7 linked regions of the Homo sapiens genome follow. The protein of the gene in region 6 interacts with the protein of the main gene of each other region in a pairwise test. Each region holds a gene or a part of one and is shown on either strand. Other genes may lie near its edges.

Evidence for each region.
Region 1: the proteins of ATPAF2 (region 6) and EWSR1 interact in binary tests that used the Homo sapiens proteins (3 or more experiments, as listed by UniProt).
Region 2: the proteins of ATPAF2 (region 6) and LGALS9B interact in binary tests that used the Homo sapiens proteins (3 or more experiments, as listed by UniProt).
Region 3: the proteins of ATPAF2 (region 6) and ZNF19 interact in binary tests that used the Homo sapiens proteins (3 or more experiments, as listed by UniProt).
Region 4: the proteins of ATPAF2 (region 6) and EBF1 interact in binary tests that used the Homo sapiens proteins (3 or more experiments, as listed by UniProt).
Region 5: the proteins of ATPAF2 (region 6) and CEP57 interact in binary tests that used the Homo sapiens proteins (3 or more experiments, as listed by UniProt).
Region 7: the proteins of ATPAF2 (region 6) and PKP4 interact in binary tests that used the Homo sapiens proteins (3 or more experiments, as listed by UniProt).

The regions. Positions count from the first base shown.
Region 1 is NC_000022.11:29,292,268-29,295,767, reverse strand, and holds part of EWSR1 (RNA-binding protein EWS), read right to left. Parts: intron 3,281-3,500; coding exon 3,162-3,280; intron 1-3,161. UniProt on the Homo sapiens protein: Binds to ssRNA containing the consensus sequence 5'-AGGUAA-3'. Might normally function as a transcriptional repressor. EWS-fusion-proteins (EFPS) may play a role in the tumorigenic process.
Region 2 is NC_000017.11:20,457,540-20,461,039, forward strand, and holds part of LGALS9B (galectin-9B), read right to left. Parts: intron 2,905-3,500; coding exon 2,813-2,904; intron 846-2,812; coding exon 644-845; intron 1-643.
Region 3 is NC_000016.10:71,479,325-71,482,824, forward strand, and holds part of ZNF19 (zinc finger protein 19), read right to left. Parts: intron 2,820-3,500; 5' UTR 2,791-2,819; coding exon 2,758-2,790; intron 1-2,757. UniProt on the Homo sapiens protein: May be involved in transcriptional regulation.
Region 4 is NC_000005.10:158,715,417-158,718,916, reverse strand, and holds part of EBF1 (transcription factor COE1), read left to right. Parts: intron 1-3,500. UniProt on the Homo sapiens protein: Key pioneer transcription factor of B-cell specification and commitment. Recognizes variations of the palindromic sequence 5'-ATTCCCNNGGGAATT-3'.
Region 5 is NC_000011.10:95,824,998-95,828,497, reverse strand, and holds part of CEP57 (centrosomal protein of 57 kDa), read right to left. Parts: intron 713-3,500; coding exon 471-712; intron 1-470. UniProt on the Homo sapiens protein: Centrosomal protein which may be required for microtubule attachment to centrosomes. May act by forming ring-like structures around microtubules. Mediates nuclear translocation and mitogenic activity of the internalized growth factor FGF2, but that of FGF1.
Region 6 is NC_000017.11:18,017,521-18,019,844, forward strand, and holds the end of ATPAF2 (ATP synthase mitochondrial F1 complex assembly factor 2), read right to left. Parts: intron 1,167-2,324; coding exon 1,029-1,166; 3' UTR 501-1,028; downstream 1-500. UniProt on the Homo sapiens protein: Plays a role in the assembly of the F1 component of the mitochondrial ATP synthase (ATPase).
Region 7 is NC_000002.12:158,679,441-158,681,929, reverse strand, and holds the end of PKP4 (plakophilin-4), read right to left. Parts: intron 1,502-2,489; coding exon 1,253-1,501; 3' UTR 501-1,252; downstream 1-500. UniProt on the Homo sapiens protein: Plays a role as a regulator of Rho activity during cytokinesis. May play a role in junctional plaques.

The sequences.
Region 1 (3,500 bases), on a different chromosome or scaffold from region 6:
GATGACTAGTCTTTCAGCTGAATATCAGATGTGGTTGACTTGAATTCAGGAGCTACCTTGTATAAGAATATCTTCACGTGTACTTTTTTGCATTATATATGCACACGATCAGTTTAGTCTGTAATTGTTTACATATATCCAGTAACACAAGAGCAATCTATTTATAGGACTTAAAAAAGATTACAACAGGATATATATATTGATACCTCTGACTTAAAAAAAGGAACGTGATACCTAAAAACTGAAAAGAAAATATGGCAAAACTGTGGTATGAATAATGTGGAAATGCATTTTTTTCTTTTTTGTGAGACAGAGTCTCACTCTGTTGTCCAGGCTGGTCTCAAACTCCTGGGCTCAAGCAATCCTTGGGATCCTCCTGCCTTGGCCTCCCAAAGTGCTGGGATTACACATGTGAGCCACTGTATCCAGCTTGGAAATCTATTTTAACATCTTTATTTCCAAAATTTTGATGGTAAATACTACTTTCTTAACCAGGATAAACTCCACATTCCTCAATAAACTACATGTTATATACATATTAAAAAGCAGTCTTTTTAATATGCTCAAGCCTGTACTCCCAGCTACTCAAGAGGCTTGAGGCTTGAACCCAGGAGGCGGAGGTTGCAGTGAGCTGAAATTGTGCCACTGCACTCCAGTCTGGGCAACAGAGCAAGACTCCATCTCAAAACAAAAAAGCAAACAAGGAGTCTTGCACAGGGTAGAATGTGACAGTAGACACTAAAAGCATTTTACTTTTGAGGTGTGTGTGATATCTGTGCACACACACACCTACAAGCAGGGAGAAATCACCTTATATAAGATTTACCAAAATCAACTGTATTTCCTTTTTTTTTTTGAGATGGAGTCTTGCTCTGTCGCCAGGCTGGAGTGCAGTGGCGCCATCTCAGCTCACTGCAACCTCTGCATCCTGGGATCAACTGATTCTCCTGCCTCAGACTCCCAAGTAGCTCAACTACAGGCGCGTGTCACCACACCCGGCTAATTTCTGTATTTTTAGTAGATACGGGGTTTCACCACGTTGGCCAGGATGGTCTCGATCTCTTGACTTCGTGATCCACCCACCTCGGCCTCCCATAGTGCCGGGATTACAGGCATGAGCCACCACGCCCGCCCAAAATCAACTGTATTTTTTTTTTTTTTTTGAGGCGGAGTCTCACTCAGTCACCCAGGCTGGAATGCAGTGGCGCCATCTCAGCTCACTGCAAGCTCCGCCTCCCAGGTTCATGCCATTCTCCCGCCTCAGCCTCCGAGTAGCTGGGACTACAGGTGCCCGCCACCAAGCCTGGCTAATTTTTTGTATTTATAGTAGAGACGGGGTTTCATCGTGTTAGCCAGGATGGTCTCGATCTCCTGACCTCGTGATCCACCCGCCTCGGCCTCCCAAAGTGCTAGGATTACAGGCGTGAGCTACCGCGCCCGGCCAAATCAACTGTATTTCTATACACCAGTAATAACCAGAAAAGTGTCATTTAACGAAGACCCTTAACCACAGCAACTTGAAAATAAACGAAACCTAGAAGTAAAACTAGTAAAATTTGCAAGACCTTTAAGGAAATCGATAGTCTTTACTGAAGATCTAAATAGGCTGGGTGTGGTGGCTCACACCTGTAATCACAGCACTTTGGGAGGCCTAGGTGGGTGGATCACGTGAGGTCAGAAGTTCAAGACCAGCCTGACCAACCTGGTGAAATCCCATCTCTACTTACAAAAATTAGCCAGGGGTGCTGGCAGGCGCCTGTAATTCCAGCTACTCGGGAGGCTGAGGCAAGGAGACCCGGGAGGCAGAGGTTACAGTAAACCAAGACTGCGCCACTGCAATCCAGCCGGGTGAAGGAGTGAGACTCTGTCTCAAAGTAAAATAAAATAACAAATAGAGACAGGCCAGGCACAGTGGCTCATGTCTGCAATCACAAAACTTTGGGAGTTGAGGCGGCAGATCACCTGAGGTCAGGAGTTCAAGACCAGCCTGACCAACATGGTTTCACCAAACCCCATCTCTACTAAAAATACAAAAATTAGCTGGGTGTGGTGGCGGGCACCTGTAATCCTAGCTACTCAGGAGGCTGAGGCAGGACAATCGCTTGAACCCAGGAGCCAGAGGCTGCAGTGAGCCGAGATCGTGCCACTGCACTCCAGCCTGGTGACACAGCAAGACTGTCTCAGTAAATAAATAAGCAAATAAATATACAAATAAATGGAGAAATAAAATCTTCATGGGGAAAAAAAGATCACTCAGTATCATAAAAATGTAAATTCTCCTGAAATTACTTCATAGATTTAGTAAATATTCAATTGGGGTTTTAAGGTTTTGAGGTTTATGGGGTTCATAAACTAACTCTAATACAGAAGAGCAAGAACTGAAAAACAGTCAAAATCCCTGAAGAAAAAATCTGCGTTACTAGCTATGAAGAATTAGCATAAAGACACAATAATTTGAGGTTGGGTGTAGTGGCTCATGCTTGTAATCCCAGCAATTTGGGAGGCTGAGGTAGGTGGCCACTTGAGGTGGCCAGGAGTTAGAGACCAGCCCGGCCAACAGGCAAAAATCCATCTCCACTAAAAATATAAAAATTAGTTGGGTGTGGTGGCATGTGCCTATAAGTCCAGCTACCTCAAGAGGCTGTGGTGGGAGAATCACTTGAACCTGGGAGGCTGAGATTGAGCAACACTCTGTCCCTAGGGGTGGAGGAGGGAAGGCCGGGCGTAGGGGATCACACCTGTAATCCCAGCACTTTGGGAGGCGCCAAGGTGGGCAGATCACCTGAGGTCAGGAGTTTGAGACCCGCCTGCCCAACACGGTGAAACCCCATCTTTACTAAAAAGACACAATTAGCTGGTGGCGCACACCTGTAATCCCAGCTACTTGGGAGGCTGAGGCAGGAGATTCGCTTGAACAGAGGTTGCAGTGAGCCAAGACTTGCGCCATTGCACTCCAGCCTGGGCACCAAGAAGGAAACTCCGTCTCAAAAAAAAAAAAAAAAAAAGGCTAATCTTTTTTAAAAAGGAACAAACCATAAGATACCTAGAAAGAAGTCAGGCAAAGGCAACCTTAGAAAACAACTCTCAACATCAATTCAATCTCTTTAAAATGCTCTGTGGTTTAAAGTTCTGCCAGATGACCTGGTTATGCTTTTACTGACCTTAACAACCCCACACTGCTTAAAGAAGTCTGCCAGATCATCTAGAGTCACACTGTCATTTAATCCTTGTACATAAATTGCACTGTTGTCAGAGTCTTCATCTGGATCTACAGGTGGGCCTTTCAGAGACAACAAGACAGGAGAATTATTATCATGTATCTATAGGGGTTTCTTAACTACCTGATCACTACTGCCCAAGGATATTCATCATAAATCTAAGAAAACTACCAAGCATACTAAGAAGAATGCTATCAAACTTTTGGTTTACTTCACTTAAGGCAATTATGAGTAGATGCTCACATAGGATTTCCCAAACTGTCCTTGACAGCAAGAATATCA
Region 2 (3,500 bases), 2.4 Mb from region 6:
CGGCTTCCAGCTCCATCCATGTTCCTGTAAAGGACATGATCTCATTCCTTTTTAGGACTGCAGGGGTATTATTTAAATATGCATAAAATGCTCACGGGGAGCAGAGGAGAGGTGACATCGGGTTGCATACTGAATGGATGGGAACATCCTTATCTCAGATAAGCATATTCAGACTGAGTTACCCACCGGCTTCTCAAGCCCAGAGACCTACTGTGCTTGCAAAGGTAATTTGCAATGTGCTTACAGAACTATAACCGTAATAGACTCTGGATAAAGGCTGGAACAATGTCGCTGAAAAATAAATGTTACCAGGGACCTGGAGAGGAGGTATGGTGATAGCAGAGGAATGGAATGAGCTTGGAATTCAAAGACACACAACACCTAACAGCAACGTGATGACTCCTCTAGTTCTTATTTTCAGAGTAAAAGAAGCAGGAGGTGCACCTGTAGATTCAGGTGAAGGTGCGTAAGGAGACTACACAGCCATGGGTAACACCCTTACAAGGAAATGGTCATGTTATCTGTATGGTGGTGTCACTCTGGCTGAATGTCAATTAAAGTGGTTACTTAAAAGGCCATTCACATTCACCTGATAGGGCTGGGAGTCCCGTGGGCGAGAGGTGGGGAGGGGATTCCTGCTTACCTTGAAATCTGAGCTCTGCACCAGGAAGCAGAGGTCAAAGGGCATCCCCTTCTGGAAGGGCATGTGCATCTTCCTCTCCTCGGGCCCCCATCTTCCTTTCTGCCTCGTGTTGCACACCACATACCCTCCGTCTTCAAACCGAGGGTTGAAGTGGAAGGCAATGTCGTTTCCACTGAAGCCCGTCTGAAAGTCCACAGCAAACCTAGGCCCAGGAAAAGCAAATAGTCTTCTGTGGCATGGATTATTGCCAGTGACAGGCACAGGAGGGCCTCGGTGCCTCTGCCCTGTGTTTGTCTGGGATCTTGCATACAACCTGCGTGGCAGAGACTGCTTGGTTGGCATCGTTTTTGTTTCTCTAATTTGGATCCAATGTGTTTTTGTGCGATTATTGCATTTTGCCTTTACAGCACGATTTTCTAAACATAAGTAGAAAATGGCTAAGGGAAAGTGCTGGCATTAGCAAACAAGAAGCATAGGTCCTGGAAAGTGATTACCAGTTGGTAACAAAGATGGAAGTTGTTAAGCACACCTAGAAGAGAGAGGCTTCTGTGCCAGTGGACACTTGTTGGAGGCCAGCACATGCCTGATTAAGTGCGAAAGAAGAGAACAAATGTAAAGAGCATGTGAAATCGGGGCCGGGCGCAGTGCCTCACGCCTGTAATCACAGCACTTTGGGACGCCAAGGTGGGTGGATCACTTGAGCCCAGGAGTTGAAGACCAGCCTGAGCAACAGAGCGAGATCTCATCTCTACTTAAAAAACAAAAAGATATATATATATATTTAATTAGCTAGACATCATGATGCATGTCTATAGTCCCAGCTGCTCTGGGGGATGAGATGGGAGGATCCCTTGAGCCCAGGAAGTCGAGGCTGCAGTGAGCTATGATCGTACCACTGCACTCCAGCCTGGGTGAAAGAAAAAAGTCCCTGTCTCTAAAGAAAAAAATAAATTAATTAAATGAATAAATGGAGAAGATTGCATTTGAAATATCACTGCATGTATTTTTTTCCTTTGGAGACCTTCAGCTTCATTCCTGTGGCCCTTTGGAAATTCCTGCCCCAAGGAAGGGAGAGACAGAAAGCTCCTGAGAGGAGAGGGCCCTCTGAGGTAGGATCTGTCTCTGTGCAACAGGATGGGAGTGGGAAGCCCTCCTGGTGCTGGGAGGTGGGGGAAACAGAGGGAGAGGGAAAGAGGAAGGGGTGGAAGATCAGAGGCATGGTTCTGATTCCCCCGGTTGGAGGATTCAGGGGGATCAGGGCCTCCCTGCCCTTGGCATCTCCTGGGGGCACTGCAGGCTCTCAGAGAAGTCCGACAGCAGGATAGCAATGGCGGAGGAGGTCATCAAGAATCTAGGTGGCGGAGCTGAGGTTGAGCTGGCATCTACGAGGCCCAGAGGGTCTTAAGAGAGGTCCACTGGGACTGAGGCAGAGAGGCTTCCGAGAGAGAGCCATGAGTCCAGAGGCTCTTCTGTGGGCCCCGCAGACTTCAGCAGGCAGCCACCCGTGGTCCCTCACTAAACCAGGAGAGAGCTGCACACCTCTGTGCCACCCAGTCAGGATGCCTCGGCAGGGGTCAGCCAGGCCTGCGTGAGGGTCGGGGGCCCTCCCAGCCACTGACAAGCCACGTGAGCTCCTCTCTGTTCCCAGACAGCCCACCTTGGGAGGGAGGAAGGGGTGGGAAACAGCCCTGATACAATGTTAGTATTTTGAATGGACTTAGTAGTTTCCAGAAAAGGCCTTGAAACCGAAAGAGACCAAATTACTTCGGATGTCAATTTTCAGTATTTTCATGTCAGCAGAAGGAGAGCTTCAGAGTGGATGAAAGCAGTTATGGGAAACGGAGGAAGTTTGATTTTTGCAACTCTCAGTCACAGTGTGCAAGGTTCAGCCCAGAACATAATCATCCAACTCTGACCATCCCACTCCTTCCTTAGACCTTCAGCTCCCAGGGCCCCATTCATCCTGGAGTCCAGGTTAATGGCATCCCTGGGTGCAGGTTGTGCCTGTGGAGTGCTGTCCTGTGGCATGGGTTAAGGATGCATTGGGTCTCCCCTGCGCCAGGCACGTGAGCTTGGATGTTGTTGTTTGAACTAACCGAGGCTCACAGGCACAGTGGCTTTACTAAGGGACGAGGCTGGAGTGAAACGTTTCCATCCATATACACACACCTGGTTCCACTGGAGCTGAGAACGGCCCCATTGACAGTGATCTGAAATCCGTCCTGGAGACCCCCTTGGATAGTCCCAGAAAAGGGGACGGCCTGCAGGGAGAAGACATGGGGCCTCAGTCAGGTGGCCGGCCTCCTGTTTGCTCCCCTTCGGGGCTAGTCAGTGGCTGGCCTGGGTGTGACCGCACCATGCGAGGGGCTAGGGTGCAGCTGTGACCAGGACAGAAGGAGTCTCAGCCCCACGGGTCTTAGGGTCCTGTGTGGAGGCAGACACAAATCCAATTAGTTACTCAGACAGTCTAAGCTTGTGATAAGGAGAATCCTGGCCCTGAGAGGACGCGACAGGGAGCTGAGCTTGTGTGAGAGTCTGAGAGGCAGCGGAGGCCACACCAGGAACGCTCCAGGCGGAAGGCCTTCCTTCCAGGCAGGGAAGTAGCAGGCAGACGCCCTGGGCTGGTAAGGAACTAGGTAGCAATGGGGCTGCTGGACCCCATGCCAAGCTCCCAGCAAAGTGCCCAGCGCCCTGGCTGGGGACTCAGGAGGCCCAAGGGAACAAAGGGACCCATCAAGGGTCTGCAGGTTCCACCGAGAGGGTCACCAGAGAGTGTCAAGAAGAAGGCATGCACCTCTCCCCACCACCACCATATAACAATGGCCACCATGACCTTTGCCCTCCTGACCACCTTCAG
Region 3 (3,500 bases), on a different chromosome or scaffold from region 6:
ATATTTTCAGTCTTTTACTTTTGTACCTACAGGTGGACAATTTGCTTCAAATGGTATCTCAGGACCCACCTATTCCTATTAGGTACTCCCTATTCTCAGCCAATCTATCTGTTCCCCACATGTGTTCACCCTGCCCCAAACCTTATGCCCATGAAACAAGCACAGAGTCATGGTTTGCACTGATGGGCCTATCTCATCCGACTCCCATTCGATTCTTGTATAAAGGACTGGGCTGCCTGTGCTCAAGAGCATCCTGTAGAGGGAGCTCAGAGTCTCCTGGCACAATCCACTCTGCTCCTTGATGGCTTTTCCTAGAAAACCATGCTTCTAGAATTAAATTGCTGCTGCTGGGTAGCTCTTTTAGCTCCTTATCTTTATAGCTCCAAGACAATCTGTAATAGCTTCTGCCAACCAAGCCTCATGCTTCTTGGGTTTTTTTTTCTTTCTTTCTTTCGGTTTTGGTTCTTTTTCTCTTTTTTTTCTGTTTTTGACAGTGTCTTGCTCTGTCACCCAGGTTGGAGTGCAGTGGCACAATCTCAGCTCACTGCAGCCTCGACCTCCCAGCTCAGGTGATCCTCCCGCCTCAGACTCTTGAGTAGCTGGGACTATAGGTGCACACCACCATGCCAGGCTAATCTTTGTATTTTCTGTAGAGACAAGGTTTTGCCACGTTCCCCAGGCTGGTCTCAAACTCCTGGACTCAAGAGATCCGTCTGCCTCGGCCTCCCAAAGTGCTGGGATTACGGGAATGAGCCACCATGCCCAGCCCCTCATGCTTTTTCAACAGACACCCTTCTCCCTCCCTGCTGGCCTCAACTCTACCTTTCCACAAAGTTCTGGCATCTGGTTTAGAGCCTCTATTCACTCCTCAGATGTTGGTATTGAACTTCGTTACCGGAGTGCTCAGGGAATACACTCCGACCTTCCAATGCCTCAACTGATTTTGCACATATCCACATCCCCCTCATCCCAGCACTGCCTCAGACTCTCTGGATGACCCAACACACTGACTCACCAAGCAACCCCAAACTCATCTTCCCCAAAATGGCTTCCTTTCTAATTTATATAAACTAAGTGGCAGTGTGACAATATTTTTCCCTCTCTGTTGATAACACCAATTTCAACCCAGTCTCTAATGCTAGAACTTCAGATTAATCCTAGACATTCTAACCCCCATCATCACTCATTGCTGACAGTTAATACTCAAGTCCTGCCAATTTTATTACCTACGTTATTTCTGGAATCTGACTCTTCTTCACTGTGGTACAATCAGTAAACTAGGTCAACAGCTGGGGACACTTTAGCTCTACTTCCAGTCTTGTCCCACACTGAATCTATCCTCTGCCCAGCTGACAACCTGACTTCATCAACTCCTGAATGAACCTCTTGAATGAATCACCACTAACTAGAGCAGTGGTATTCAGAGTGTGGTCTCCAGACCACCACCAGTAGCGGATGCAACACTTGGGAATTTGTTAGGCAAATTCTTGGGCCCCACTCTGAGAGAAGTCCATACTTCAGTGAGCCCTCCAGGTAATTCTGATGTACACTGAAGTCTGAGAACCCTGGATTGGAGGATAAAATCCAAACTCAGGAAACTGAGCTGTATTAGGTGACAAAGTGATGGAAAGGTGCACAACTATACACAGAGAATCTATCCGGGAAGCGCTGCAAACAAAATTCCAGAGAAGGAACAACAAACTCTAAATGTAATCTGAAAGATGGCACAAGTGGCAGAGAGAGAAGGAAAAACAACAAGACTTTGTGTCTCTCTGGAAATGGTATCAGGGGAGAACATAGTCAACAATTACACAGCAATTTAGAAACTGAGTGATCAGGACTGCAATATAGTGTGATGTCAGACACTTGTGGAAAAACCAGAAGAGGGTGGGAGCTCCAAGGAAGCTGATATATCAGTGACACAGTCAGGTAGAGAAAACTGAAGGATGTGAGAAATATGAGATTATGATTTGGGATATGGTTCATGGATACTAAGTTACTGGATAAATAAGTGCCAGGAGAAAAGAAATGACAAAGCAGCAACTCCGTCTCAAAAAGTGAAATGTAATTCAAGAAATCAATTCTCTGTCCCAAAAATGTAAGGTACTTATGTTCACCTTACAAATGAATCCAGTTAAGATGCAAAGCAATTATGTGACTGGCTCAAGGCTATGATGCCACTGAGGCCTAACAGATCCCTAACTTCAGGTGTCCTGTTGGGAGTGTAGACTTTTCCTATCACAGCCCATTGCCTCACTTCGCCAGCAGTACTGACCTCAAGGACATATGTTTCCTGATTCTGAAGCCCAAACTTCCTCCTTTCTTTTGGAGGACAAATTAGATAGGCCCCCTCTTTCTTGTCTTCTTCCTGCTGTCCCTCTGCTGCTACTTCCCAAAAACCTTGTGCCCTTGCTGATCTTAGTCACTTCCATCCTATCCTGGATCCCTACATCACCAGCCTGAGTCCCTCGTTCTCACAATTCCCTCTGCAGAGGGACAGCTACTGAACCTGGGGATCCTCTGGCCCAGGAGAGATTCTCAGTATTCAGGAGGCTGTACTTCAGCTTTCCAGATCACTCTCTCCTGTTTCCATCTTCACTGCCCCTAGCTCTTTCCCCAGCACCCAGTCCTACTGGAGGGAATCAGCAGGGGTTTTCCTACTGCTTTGGCTCTAAGACTTGCCAGAATCACCTTTATCCACCTCATTTCCTTCAACTCAGACCTCCATAGAGCTGACCTCAGGGATCCACAGCTCACCTGGTATTGAGCTTTCAGAGGCATGGCTGCCATGACCTGGTCTCCCTCTTAGCAGGCAAAGGCTGAGGGAAGAAACAGAGAGAACCAACAGTGAGCTCAGCCCAGTAAAATGCTCTCTTTAGAGCAATAAATTTGCCAATAGCAAGCAGCATTCACTTACTAAATGCTCACTGGGTTAGTGGTGCATAAATATGTACTTTTTAATCCACATCATACCATGAGGTTTGTAATTCTGAGGAAACAGATTTTGAAAGAATAAGTAACTTGTCCTAGGACACCAGAGCCTGTCCTCACCAACACCAAGCTAAATGAAGAGCAAAACAAGCAAAAGACACCAATAAACTCAGAGCGAAACCTAACAAGAAGAATCTCAGACCTTTATTTTTAAAAATAAATTTGACTGAGAATATAAAAGGTTAAAAATAGCAAGTATCATGCTTTTGGATGAAAAATACATATTCTCTTATTTAGTCCTCACAACAATCTTTTGAACCTTTAATTTTTCCCAAATGAGAAGACAAGGCTAAGAGAATAATTTCTTCTACCAAGATCACTCAGCTGGTGAATGGATGAACTCGGATCCCACACTAGATCTGCCAGGCTTCAAAGGTCATGTTTTTGTCTGTTTGTTTGTTTGTTGAGACAAGAATCTCACTGTCACCTGGGCTGGAGTGCAATGGCGTGATCTCAGCTGACTGTAACCACGGCCTCCCAGGTTCAAGCAATTCTCCTGCCTCAGCCTC
Region 4 (3,500 bases), on a different chromosome or scaffold from region 6:
AAGTCTGCAGTCTAGCTATGGAGAATGATGACTAACACACTTCAGATCAGAGCAGAATGACCTCTCAGTATATACTTCTGTGCTGTGCTGGGTGACACAGATGGTCAGCACTCTTTTTCAGAGGAAATAGAGATATTAGGAGCTGGGGTATCAGTGAAGGTGGAATTATTTCTGATAGAACAGTGTGATTTTCAAGAGCCAGGCTCTGATGTCTAACAGGCCTGGGGTTGAATCCATGCTCAGCCACTAGTCAGCGGTGGAAACTTTGGGAAAGTTAGCTGACCTCTCTGAGTGTCAGTTTCCTCATCTGCCAGATAGTAATAGAAAGAATACCTTAAGAGGCTTTCTATGAAGGTTGAATGAGTTCTTGCTCCACTTTCAATAAATGAGAGTGATCTCCTTCATTACCATACCATCACGATCCCCTTCAGTACGAGGCTTCAGAGGATGGAGAGAGGCATTGTCCATGGGCACAGATTGAAGCCAGCATTCCCTCCAAAAAAAGGGGAAGGCAAAAGGAGTGAAGGTATGGAGATAGAAAGGAGCCAAATGTTTTACTTCTAGGCTGGGGAGGACAAGCATAGAGAGCAGTTCTTCAAATACATAGGGAGAGATGACTGGACAAAGATGGTAGGACCAAGTGATGGCGACAATCTTTTGTGACTCTCATCAAACTTTGTAGGTCGATGCTGGGAAGATAATGTGCCCTGAAAGTTGCTGGAGAATAAGATCCACATATGATGACAGACAAGGGCAACAAGAAGCTCAAACAATATTTGCTAATTGGGTTGCAAAGTAGAAAGTAAAGCTGAATCTTCCCTTTATATTTGTAGCCCATTCAGCATTTTTATTATAAAGCTTCCAAAATATAAGTAAAACCCATGCCAGCTACATTTGAACTGTTTCTTGGAACCCCATTCCTCCTTCGGTCTCCCTAACATTTCTGTAGACTCTAAATAGAGTAAGAATAATGCATCCACATTTTTCTCCATAGAACCCCACTCACATAACCATCAACCTATGGTCATAGCAAGACAGGTGAAGCCACGTTTTGATAGTGAGATGAAATCAATCAGTGAAAAGTAGTTGTTGTTTTTAAGGAGTAAAGCTTTTTTGTATCTTTAAGAGAGAAGAAATCCAAGGCCATGAGCAGAAAAATTGTCTGACTCAGAATGTAGATTGGAGAACAAACATTACCTCTACAAGGAGACTCTGGGGCTTTTCAATATTTAGGATACTAGTATTTGTCTTTAATTCCCAAAAGGGATTTTTAAAAAAAAAAAATCCAAGGATAGGATTAATTATCTTGGAATTGTCTAATATCCACTCTTATGTTTGAAATTGCAAGCAGGGAGACGTTTTAAACATTATGAAAAGAAGAGAAAATCTCCCCTGACAAATAAATGCCTTGAAACATTAGATATTAGTACTAGTCAAGTGCTCTTTCTTTTCAGAAATATTAAAATTGCATATTAAAATGAAAGATCCTTAGACTGTGCTCCTGCCTAATGCCACAAAAAATAAGAATTTAAGAACAATTTTAGAGACAAAAGATTATATGAAACATCCAGCTCTTCCCCTTATGGGAAATTTCTTTTTTTAACATCCAAGGCTCAATCATTTCCTAATGTGAAATTACAGATTTTTCAAATTACCATATAAAACTGCAAAAAAATTACACTTGTGACCACAGAAGAGATGGCATACACTATCAATTTGATTTTAAAAGGCATACATCTTTTATACTACCTGTCATTTTTATAATGCCTTTTACAAATTTAATCAATACATTTTAACATTCTATATACTTTAAGTGCAATATACAATAAATATTCAAGTTTCATCTTAAACATGCTTTAGCCTTTAAATTGTTAAAACTGCAGTGCCCTTTCAATCTACTTACATAATGTCATAAAATATACATTTCAAGGTAAATGAAGTCAGCTACTTCAATTTAGTCCCTCAAACTGGTAGTAAATGAGAGGTTAACACTATGGTGCCAAACCCATTATTGAGTAAATTTAGCACCTTGGACAGCTCTGTAAAATCTTTATTGCTTTCCTGACCTGCTCGTCATGTTCTGTCTGTGTGTTCAGTGGCTCTCAGCTCTGATTGAAAGGCAATATATTAGATCCCCAACACAAACACGCCTGGGGGCTAGTTCACTGGGAGCGTAATGACATGGAGGTGAGAGCAATTTTCTGGTCACCGAAATCCAAGCAGTTTGCAGGTCCATTGCACTAACTCATGGAGGACCCAGAAATTTCCTTTCTCCTTCCCATTTGCAGAAATACCTAATAGAAGCCAAATCACATGGGCAAAGCTCAACCAAGTCTTTCTTAAGTCCTTACAAGTTGATACTACAGTGAAGGATATTTTTTAATGGGTAAGATATTATTTAAGGGTGTCCCTTTCAAGACAAGAAATCCAGGTTCACACTCCTCAAATCCAAGACTGCTGGCCTGAAGTGATGCTGTACTGATGACCTACCTATGGCAATGTACTCAATGGGAAAACATGCCCCAGCATGGTGGATCAAAGAAGGCAGCATCATGGATCAAAGAAGGATGCTCCTTTAGGAAACAAGATCCACGTGTTTTATTCTCAAAGGATTAAATGGGGATGAGAGCTCTGGATATCGACATAAGGAGAAAAAAAAAAGTAGATTTTGTCATTGAAAAACTCTATCACCAAGGATATATAATATATACTGATAGATGGTATGTTTTCAGGCTTATGAAAACTTCAAAGATCTTGGAGTTTAATTTTGAACTTCCCTCCTCCCTGCTTCTGTGAAATTAATTAAAATAAGGTACACTGCTCTAAGTCCTCAATTATAGTGTTACAAGAGTGAAGTTCACAAGTGCAGTTTCTTTCTGTGCCTCATCACGCTTTTGACAAACGGGAGACTTGCCTTTTTCCCCCCTAAAATGGAAAGAAAGGAAAATACGTTCCCTGCCAAGCCCCAACACTGGCATAAATATTTATTTGGAGAAATAAATGAACATAGGCCTAGAGAAGTCTAATCTTAGTAAATAAACTCACTTGATCCTGTTTTTTGTTTTCATCTTTCCTAAGAGCCAGATAAAGCCAAGAGGTTTTAGTGAAGGCAACACAGGCTGAATTTGATCTGGGGATAGGGTTTAGTGTGCCCGTACAATAGTAAATTATTAACTGCTGTGGTCAGACACTACTACAGCAAACAAAAAGTGGTAAATTAGCTTGTAGCTTACATTAAAAAATAAAGAAATGATTTCAGATGTATTGGTTCAAATCCCTTTGATTATATAATGTTCTTTACTCCCTACATGAAAAATAACTAAACTGTTTTATAAAGGGGGTCTATCAGCTTAAGGCAAGCATAAATGTTTATTGAGAACTGAAAACCCCACTATCTTATTTTTGAATTTAGGACATTAGATATGTCATAAGTAGTTACTGTAGTATGACAACTACTTTATCTTATATTATAGAGAATTTAAAATTGAAAAATGCTAATA
Region 5 (3,500 bases), on a different chromosome or scaffold from region 6:
TTTTACTCTACCTAGATGTTTATATACACAAATACTTACCATTGTGTTACAACTGCATATAGTATTTAGTAGTAGAGTAACATGCTGTATAGGTTTGTAGCCTAGGAGCAATAAGCTATAAGCTTAGCACACTCTTATGTTAGCACAAGGAAAAGAAAATCGCCTAATGATGTATTTCTCAGAGCACATCTTTGTCATTCAGTGATGCATGACTGTATATCATAAGTTCTCAAAGAAATAAAACTTAAATATAAACCTTGGTCTTCAAAACATTTAACAGTATTTAAAAAGAGAGAGATTTTACCCTTATTAGTTGTATTTGTTAAAGTCCCAGTAACTTGGTTGGTATAAGGATTGTGCTCAACCATACTTGCTCAACAAAGGAAAGTAAGATTTAATAAAGTCAACAAGTTTTTAAAAAATGAGGTTTTAGAGCTAAACTGAATTTAAAAAAAAAAACAAAAACTCACAAGCTCATTTGCCCAAATTCATCCTGTAAAGTCTGTAAGACTTCTGACAACTCCTCATTAATACCGTTGGAGGAGGGAGGTGTTACTGACAACTTCTTACTTTTACCACCTCGTGAAGATACTTGCTTTGCCAAAGGAATACTGTTGATGACTCGATCATTGCACAAAGCTTTACTGTGTTGCTTCATTAGATGCAAGACAAGCTGAACATTGGCTACCACGGCATGGCTAGGGCTTGTGGACTAAAGGAAGAAAAATGATGAAAGAAGTAATTGAAGTTATATTCTCTACACCACTTTCTATTCCCTAAGCCTAGGTAAAAAGAACTCTCCACCCCCTAAAGTAGAGTATATAAATCCTAAAATTATTCTCATCATGATGTTCTTCTATTTGAAATCCTTTGATATAAATCCACTAACTATGTTTCAGAATGGAAAATAAGGCCCTACATACACATCATTGAGCTGCAACCTACATTTCCTAGCCTCATGTCCTATCATCCTCCCCTTCTCTCCATTTTGTGAACAAACCATATTTGCAGATGACATTTTTTTGGTGTATTAGCAACATTTATATCATTCTTTAAAACCCAGTTCAAATATATTATTTTTAAAGGCTTCCTTAAAACTGCCAGGTAATCAATCAGTCCATTATCAGATCACCTATAACACTTTTTACATCTCTCTCATAGCATTTATCATATTTTAATTGCTTTTACATATCTATTTCACCTATTAAACAGTGTACATCCAGGTGGTAGACACTATTGTTCATTTCTGTATCCTGGAATAATAGGAAGCACTAAATTACATGTCTATCACGTGTGTAAGAAAAACCTGATAGACTTCTCAAAGATATTTTGCTTTTGTTTTAAACACTAAACCAACAATCTCAATGTACTATTCCACTTTATAAATAGATGGCTGGGCTTACTTGGCTCCATAAATATTATTAGAAAGCATATTTAAAATGCAGGTTCCTAGGCAGCACACCAAACTCACTGCAGAGTTAGGGTTTGGAAATTTGTGTTTTCAAGTCCTCCAGTTGATTTTGATTAGCCAGATTTGGAACCACCATGCTAAGCTAAACATATGCTTTCCTTCTAATCTTAGTTTCTATTGTTAGCTAGCAAAGTGAATGCAGCAGTATTATATATCACATCCAAGTGGGAGTTTATTACATCAATGCAAGGCTGGTCCACTATTCAAAAATCAATCGATGTAACCACTATTTTGCTCGTAACTTGTAATATATATTTAGCATACTAATTGCCTATGAGTACACTTTCAATATGCAATAATTTAAAAAATTCTCGTTCTGTTATTTTTCTGATTATATTAATATGCACTTGACCCTTGAACAATGGAGGGGTTAGGGGCACCGACCACCCATGTAGTCAAAACTCTGCCATAATGAAATTTTTTTTTCCTTCAACTTTTAAGTTCTGGCGTACATGCGCAGGTTTGTTATATAGGTAAATGTGTGTCATGGTGGTTTGCTGCACAGATCAACCCATCACCTAGGTATTAACCCCAGCATCCATTAGGTACTCTTCCTGATGCTCTCCCTCCCCGTTGACCAACTCCCCCACCAAACAGGCTCCAGTGTATGTTGTTCCCCACTATGTGTCCATGGGTTCTGATCATTCAGCTCCCACTTATGTAACTGAGAACTATAATAAATTTTGCCCTAAAATGTAATAGCCTGCTGTTGACTGGAAGCATTTTTGTTTTATGTATTGTAAGCAATATTCTAAAAGTAAAGTTAGAAAAAAATATTAAGAAAATCCTAAGGAAGAGAAAGTATATTTACTATTCATTAACTGGATCACCATACAGGCCTTCATCCCCATTATCTTCACTGTTGAGTAGGCAGAAGGGTAGGGTTGGTCTTGCTGTCTCAGGAGTGGCAGAGGCAGAAGAAGTGGAGGGGGAGGCAGGAGAGGCTAGCACATTCTGTGTAACTTTACAGAAATACACTATAATTTGTCTTGACTTTTCTGCTTTTTCATTTCTCTAAAAATGTTTCTATGAGATACCAATTCTTCCACCATTTGTTTTAGTTTCAGTGATGTATCATAGAAGGGTCGATGTCGTAAAAGTCAAAAGCAGGCTGGGCGCAGTGGCTCAGCCACTGGGATTACAGTGGGATTACAGAATCCCAGCACTTTGGGAGGCTGAGGCAGGTGGATCACCTAAGGTCAGGATTTCGAGACCAGCCTGGCCAACATGGAGAAACCCTGTCTTTACTAAAAAAATACAAAAATTAGCCAGGCATGGTGGCGCGTGCCTGTTGTCCAGGTACTTGGGAGGCTGAGGTGGGAGAATTGCTTGAACCCAGGAGGCAGAGGTTGCAGTGAGCTGAGATCGTGCCACTGCACTCCAGCCTGAGTGACAGAGCGAGACTCCGTCTCAAAAAAAAAAAAAAAAAAAAAGTCAAAAGCAGTCTTGAATAATTAGAACCCTTCTGTCAGATTATCTAATGTCAACTTGTTTTCTGACATTACTTCTGTGTTGTCTTCTTCATCTTGTGGCACTGGTTTGAAAGCACTCTTATCCATCCCAGTCATCTTCTGTTAATTCCTCTATCATGGTGTCTACTGACTCTTTAATTTCTCCAAAATTCGTATCTTGAAATCCTTCACCTCCAACCTTTTTTGCCATATCTACCATCTTTTTCATGATTGGCTTTGTCATAAATCCTGTGAAATCATGCATATCACCTGGAGAGTTTTCTCCAACAGGAATTTATTATTTCAGACTTGATGGCTTTCATGACTTTTTCTATAAAAATGATGGCATCATCTTCAACTGTAATCCTTCCAGACCCTCATAATGTTCTCTCTGAAGTTCTCTTCCACAGCATTAAGAACCCTTTTTATAGTGTATGTAATGTGCCTTAGAAGTCCTTATGCTCCCTGATCCAGAGGGTGAATTAGACACACTGTGTTTAGGGACAAGTAGACTACTTCCATGCCTTTGGTGTTGAACTTCCATGCTCCTGGGTAGCTAGGGGCAATGCCTAGTATTA
Region 6 (2,324 bases):
GAGGACCCTCCAGAAGAGCAGAGTGCAGGCAGGGCATCCCAGCTCCACCATGTCACCCCCGCAGCCCTGGTGTCATCTGTGACAGTACCTCACAGTGCCTTCGAGGAACAGTTCAGGGAGACAGTGCATGGGAAGCGTGGAGAGGCACCCAGCATGCGATCAGTGCCCTGTGAGCAGGGTTGATGCCATTACCTTACTCAGGCTGGCAAGGACACAGGGCTGAGAGAGCCTGTCTGCCTGAGAACCACTCTTCCCCCCTGCCCTCTTACTGGCCTGACACCAGAAAGTAGCGCCTGCCTCCTGGGACACTAGAGGTGGCTATGTCAGGAGGACCCTTAGGACTCCTGGGTGGGAGATGAGCGGAAACATGCACATCAGGTGACCTTGTCAAGCCTGTCCAGGCTTTTAGCCCAGAAACAACTTCTATTTTCTACTTTCTAGAGTAAATCATTTGTTTTAGAACAGTAGGAACAAATAGAAACAACCAGCTTAGACCACAATTGTTTCAAAAGATTGTTTGATTAAAAGCCAGCCAAAAAAAAGCCTTCAGGCTGAGGCTGAAGAACACAAATAGAGTTGTCTGTGGATTACATGATTGTTTCCCCAGTGCAAGGTTCCTGACCACAGGCAGCAGATATCCAAACACGCCATGGGAGATAAGCTGTTTAACCCTCTGGAACCTAGACAAAACAGGAAGAATGGAGAAGTGCAGAGGCATACGTGAAAACAGGGCTCAGCACATTTCCAGGGTGGAGAAATATTTAATAAAATCAGAGTCGAGAGAAAGTCACTTGCACAATTCATCTCCTACATTCACTGCTGGCCAGGCCAGGGGCACCTGGGTTGAAATCAGGCTGACCTCCGGACAGCCGTACTAGCGCACTGTGTCTCGGGGGGAATCTCAGGGTGACGCTGAGGCCGAGTCCCCAAAAGCCAAGGAAGCCAGCCCCACAGGCTGGGGAGCCCTGAAGGCCGGGGGAGCTGTGGCTGCACTGCCTCTATCCTGCTGAGTGTGCTCTGCCCAGGCCTCACTCCTTCAGGAGCTTGTGCTTGACTGTGGTGCTCTCGGAGCAGAGATGGATGAAGAGGGTGCCGGCGGCGGTGCGGGCCCGCAGCTCCTGCAGCTCATAGTCATGGGCCCACTCAATGTTGCCCCACTTCTGGATCTGAGGGAAGGACAAGACAAGTTGCTGGGTGAGTGGCCAGTGCCTGGCTGCCTCCTGACCAAAGCCACGTTCCATTCCAATAGGTTGGCTGAGGGCAACAGGTTTGTATCTTGCCAAAACACATGAGACATGCCTAGGGGGAGGTGGCAGGTAAGAACACCCAGGTACGCCAGACACGGTGGCTCACGCCTGTAATCCCAGCACTCTGGGAGACCGAGGCAGGAAGACTGCTTGAATCCAGGAGTTCAAGACCAGCCTGGGCAAATATGGTGCAACCTCGCCTCTACAAAAAGGTTTAAAAATTAGCTGGGTGTGGTGGGGGTGCACCTGTAGTCCCAGCTATTTGAGAGACTGAGGTAGGAGGACTGCTTTGAGCCCAGGAGGCTGAAGCTGCAGTAAGCCAAGATCACACCGCTGCACTCCCACTTGGGCAACAGAGCAAGACCCTGTCTCAAAAACACCACACACACACACACACACACACACACACACACACACACCCCACCACCCCACCCCCAGGGAGCCGGAGCAGGCACCTGTGCTCTCTGTGGCATGGATGGTCTGGAAGAAGTGCAGTCCAGGCCCAGGCCCAGGGCCAGTGGCTGCCCACCCACCACTGGGCAGGCTGGGTACCAGAACCACCCATGTGACTTCTTTGAGGAGGCCTTATGTGCCATCCCTTCTCCTACACTTCCTCCCAGAAAGCCTGTGAATGGACAGCCTCTCCAAGTTGCCTTGCCATGCTGGGCTACAAGTGCCCCCCAGCGCCATGTGGGTGGAATAACTAAATCAAGTAAGGCCACGCAGTGGCTTCAACTCTGACTCTTGTGGTAGTCACAGAACTACAGATGCCTCTGCTCTGCACACTGGGGACAAGTTGCAGATTCTCTGTCTGGAGCTCTAAAAACAAGAGGGAGGAACGCTCAGACACACGATGTGGCTGTCCAGACAGTGTAAGTCCAACCAAACCTTGCTGGCTCCTCCCTGGCTAGTTGCCCAAGAGGCCTGGCCTGGCCGCCCCAGCTCATCCAGGAACTCAGAATCCACCATGCTACACAAGCTATTTGAACTTCTGGGCTGCCTGGTCCCAAACTGTACAATTGTAATATGTCATCTGAAGAGTATTCCATACTTTCATTGTATACCATCACATACATA
Region 7 (2,489 bases), on a different chromosome or scaffold from region 6:
GTAATGCTGTGTGGTGCTATGGGGACCTCTGCCTACCCTACTGTGGGGCTTCTTTCCCCTACCCCATTCCTAATCCAGGAATTACTCAACAAGATCATAATTTAGAATTTGTTTTATTATATTGGTGCCAACCAAATAAATGCCCAACCACTGTTCTTATGAAGTTACTGAGTTCTTAAAAATGATGCCTAAAAAAGGTATCAATTTAGTTATATCAATTTAGTTATGGCCGGGCTGCCATATAGAAAAACATGATAAAACTGTGAAGGGTACTAGATTTGAAATAGATTCCAAGAAATAAAAATACCTAGATTGTCAGAGAAGGAAAGTTCATAGCTTAATTCTTTGGTGTGGTCCATCTCACAAAGTATATATAAAACTAGGAAAAGTCCAAAATAGTTGGATATATTTAAGCTGTTTCCAACATGCAGTTAGATTTGTGTTTATTAAATCTGCTTTTCCATATACATACAGAAAATTTAAAAAGAATAGAGAACACATTTCCAAGGATGAAATTTCCACATTTATTTTTCTTTTATGTGAATAGAAAATGGCAGTGAAGTGTCCTATGAATGAGGCGAGGAATGGGCATGGCGCTGCGGTACCAGCCTGGACGTTGTGCTTCCAAAGTACACTATGTGTGGTGGAGACAAAGGGTGTCGCGGTTTGCTTTTAATTGCTCACAGTTCCTTGGGCTTCTCATTTGTTTTTGAAGTTGTCAGTTTCTTCAAATCTCTTTTCAAGTGACACATTGCATTACAAATGATGGCACTTAACCAATGTGGCATTTCCATATTTACACCAACAAAAGAAATTTACAAGACATAATAGCATACAATCTTGACATTTAGTAATAGCAATAAAACATGGGCATCCATTTTATTTTTTCTGTACAAACTATCAGAACATAACTTTATTCACATTAAAAAAATCATCTTTAATTTGATTTGACCTACATATCCCCCATTTCATTTCACCCATTTCTCAAACCTCTCATCACGTCACCCACACCTTCACCAGACTACAGAATCTATAAGTAATTAGATCTAACACCTAAATAGAGCTTAGAAAGTCCTCTCCCAAACATTTCCTCACTTCCCTGATAATTCCTCAAAAAAGAAAAAAAAAACACACTTCATTCATTCCTTCCACTTCACTTTCACATTTCAATCATCAAATCAGCAAGATGGACTTTTCACCTCAATCTGAACAAGGTTAGAAAGAAAGAGTTCCTCTGTTGGGCATCTTGATGCTACACCCATGAGTCTGGGGACCCTGGGTACTGTTCTGCTCTATAAGAAGGTCGTTTAGTGGAATAAAAGTCTACATAATTTGTGGTCGATTTCAGTCCATACTGTGTTGAGTAATCAGTAGAAGCTGGAAAGTGAACTCGGTCATCAAAATAAGGATCTTCATAGCTATGAGGAGACTGCAAATACAATCTGTATGCATCAAAGTTCTTTCTGTTGGAGTCATCTTGACTATAATACAGCTGTTGATGCTGTTGACAAAATGAAAAGGCAAATAAATAAAAGCAATTTTTTAAAAATACATGTGTTAGGAAAATTAATGTGGGCTTCCTGCTTCATATTTTTAAAGCAATATTCAATATTTGCAGTTTAAGGTTAAAAGCTGTTTCTGGTGCACACTATGCGTTTACTATTGGACTCTAAGGATTTTAAGCTGCATTCTCAGGCAGGCTGCTGAGTTTCCTGTCCTAAGACCTCTAGAGAAGCAGGTGCCTCAAGAAAGCCTGAGATCTCAGGGCAGGTGGCCCCAGAAACCTCCCCTCTTTACTGGAGGCCCTGCTGTGTGCTCAGCTGTGGAGGCACCTGTTACCTGGGCATGCCGAATGAGAGGATGGTCTTGATATTTGGTTTGACACAGGGGAATTATTAGCACATCACTAATTTAGTCAAGGACTGGGTTTCTGGGCCTTGGATAATTGTATAATTACCGAACCATCTTTTAGAACATTTACTTCAGATATGAAGATGGAGTCCACCCCTACATTTTAAAAGATGTATGTGGCTAGGTGAACAACAGTCACACTTTGGAAACTCTGCTGTAAGTTGTAATATTAAAGGAATAAGCAATCTCAAGGCAGAAGAATAGTAAAATTAGGAGACACACGTGAGCAAATATGGTTCTAGAGGAAAAGGCTTCCCCAAGCCAGGGCTAAGTCCATCTGTAAGTGGGCAAGACCAGGCACACGTGGGCACCCACACAGGGCACACTGCTCTCCATTTCCTTTTGTTCAGTCTTAGCTTTGACCTCACACTAATTTCTTCAAATTGTGATGGTTATTATGTCTATGTTCTTGATTATGCCCAAATCCCCCTACTTAGTAAGATGTAACAAATTTACCACATAGAAACCAATGTCATGTCCTGGAACTCAATGCATTCTAACATTATAAGGATTTCAGAGCTAAATTCTCCTTTCAAGCCAGAGTTATGATTCTGGTCTATTTTTCCTGACTAAAAAAC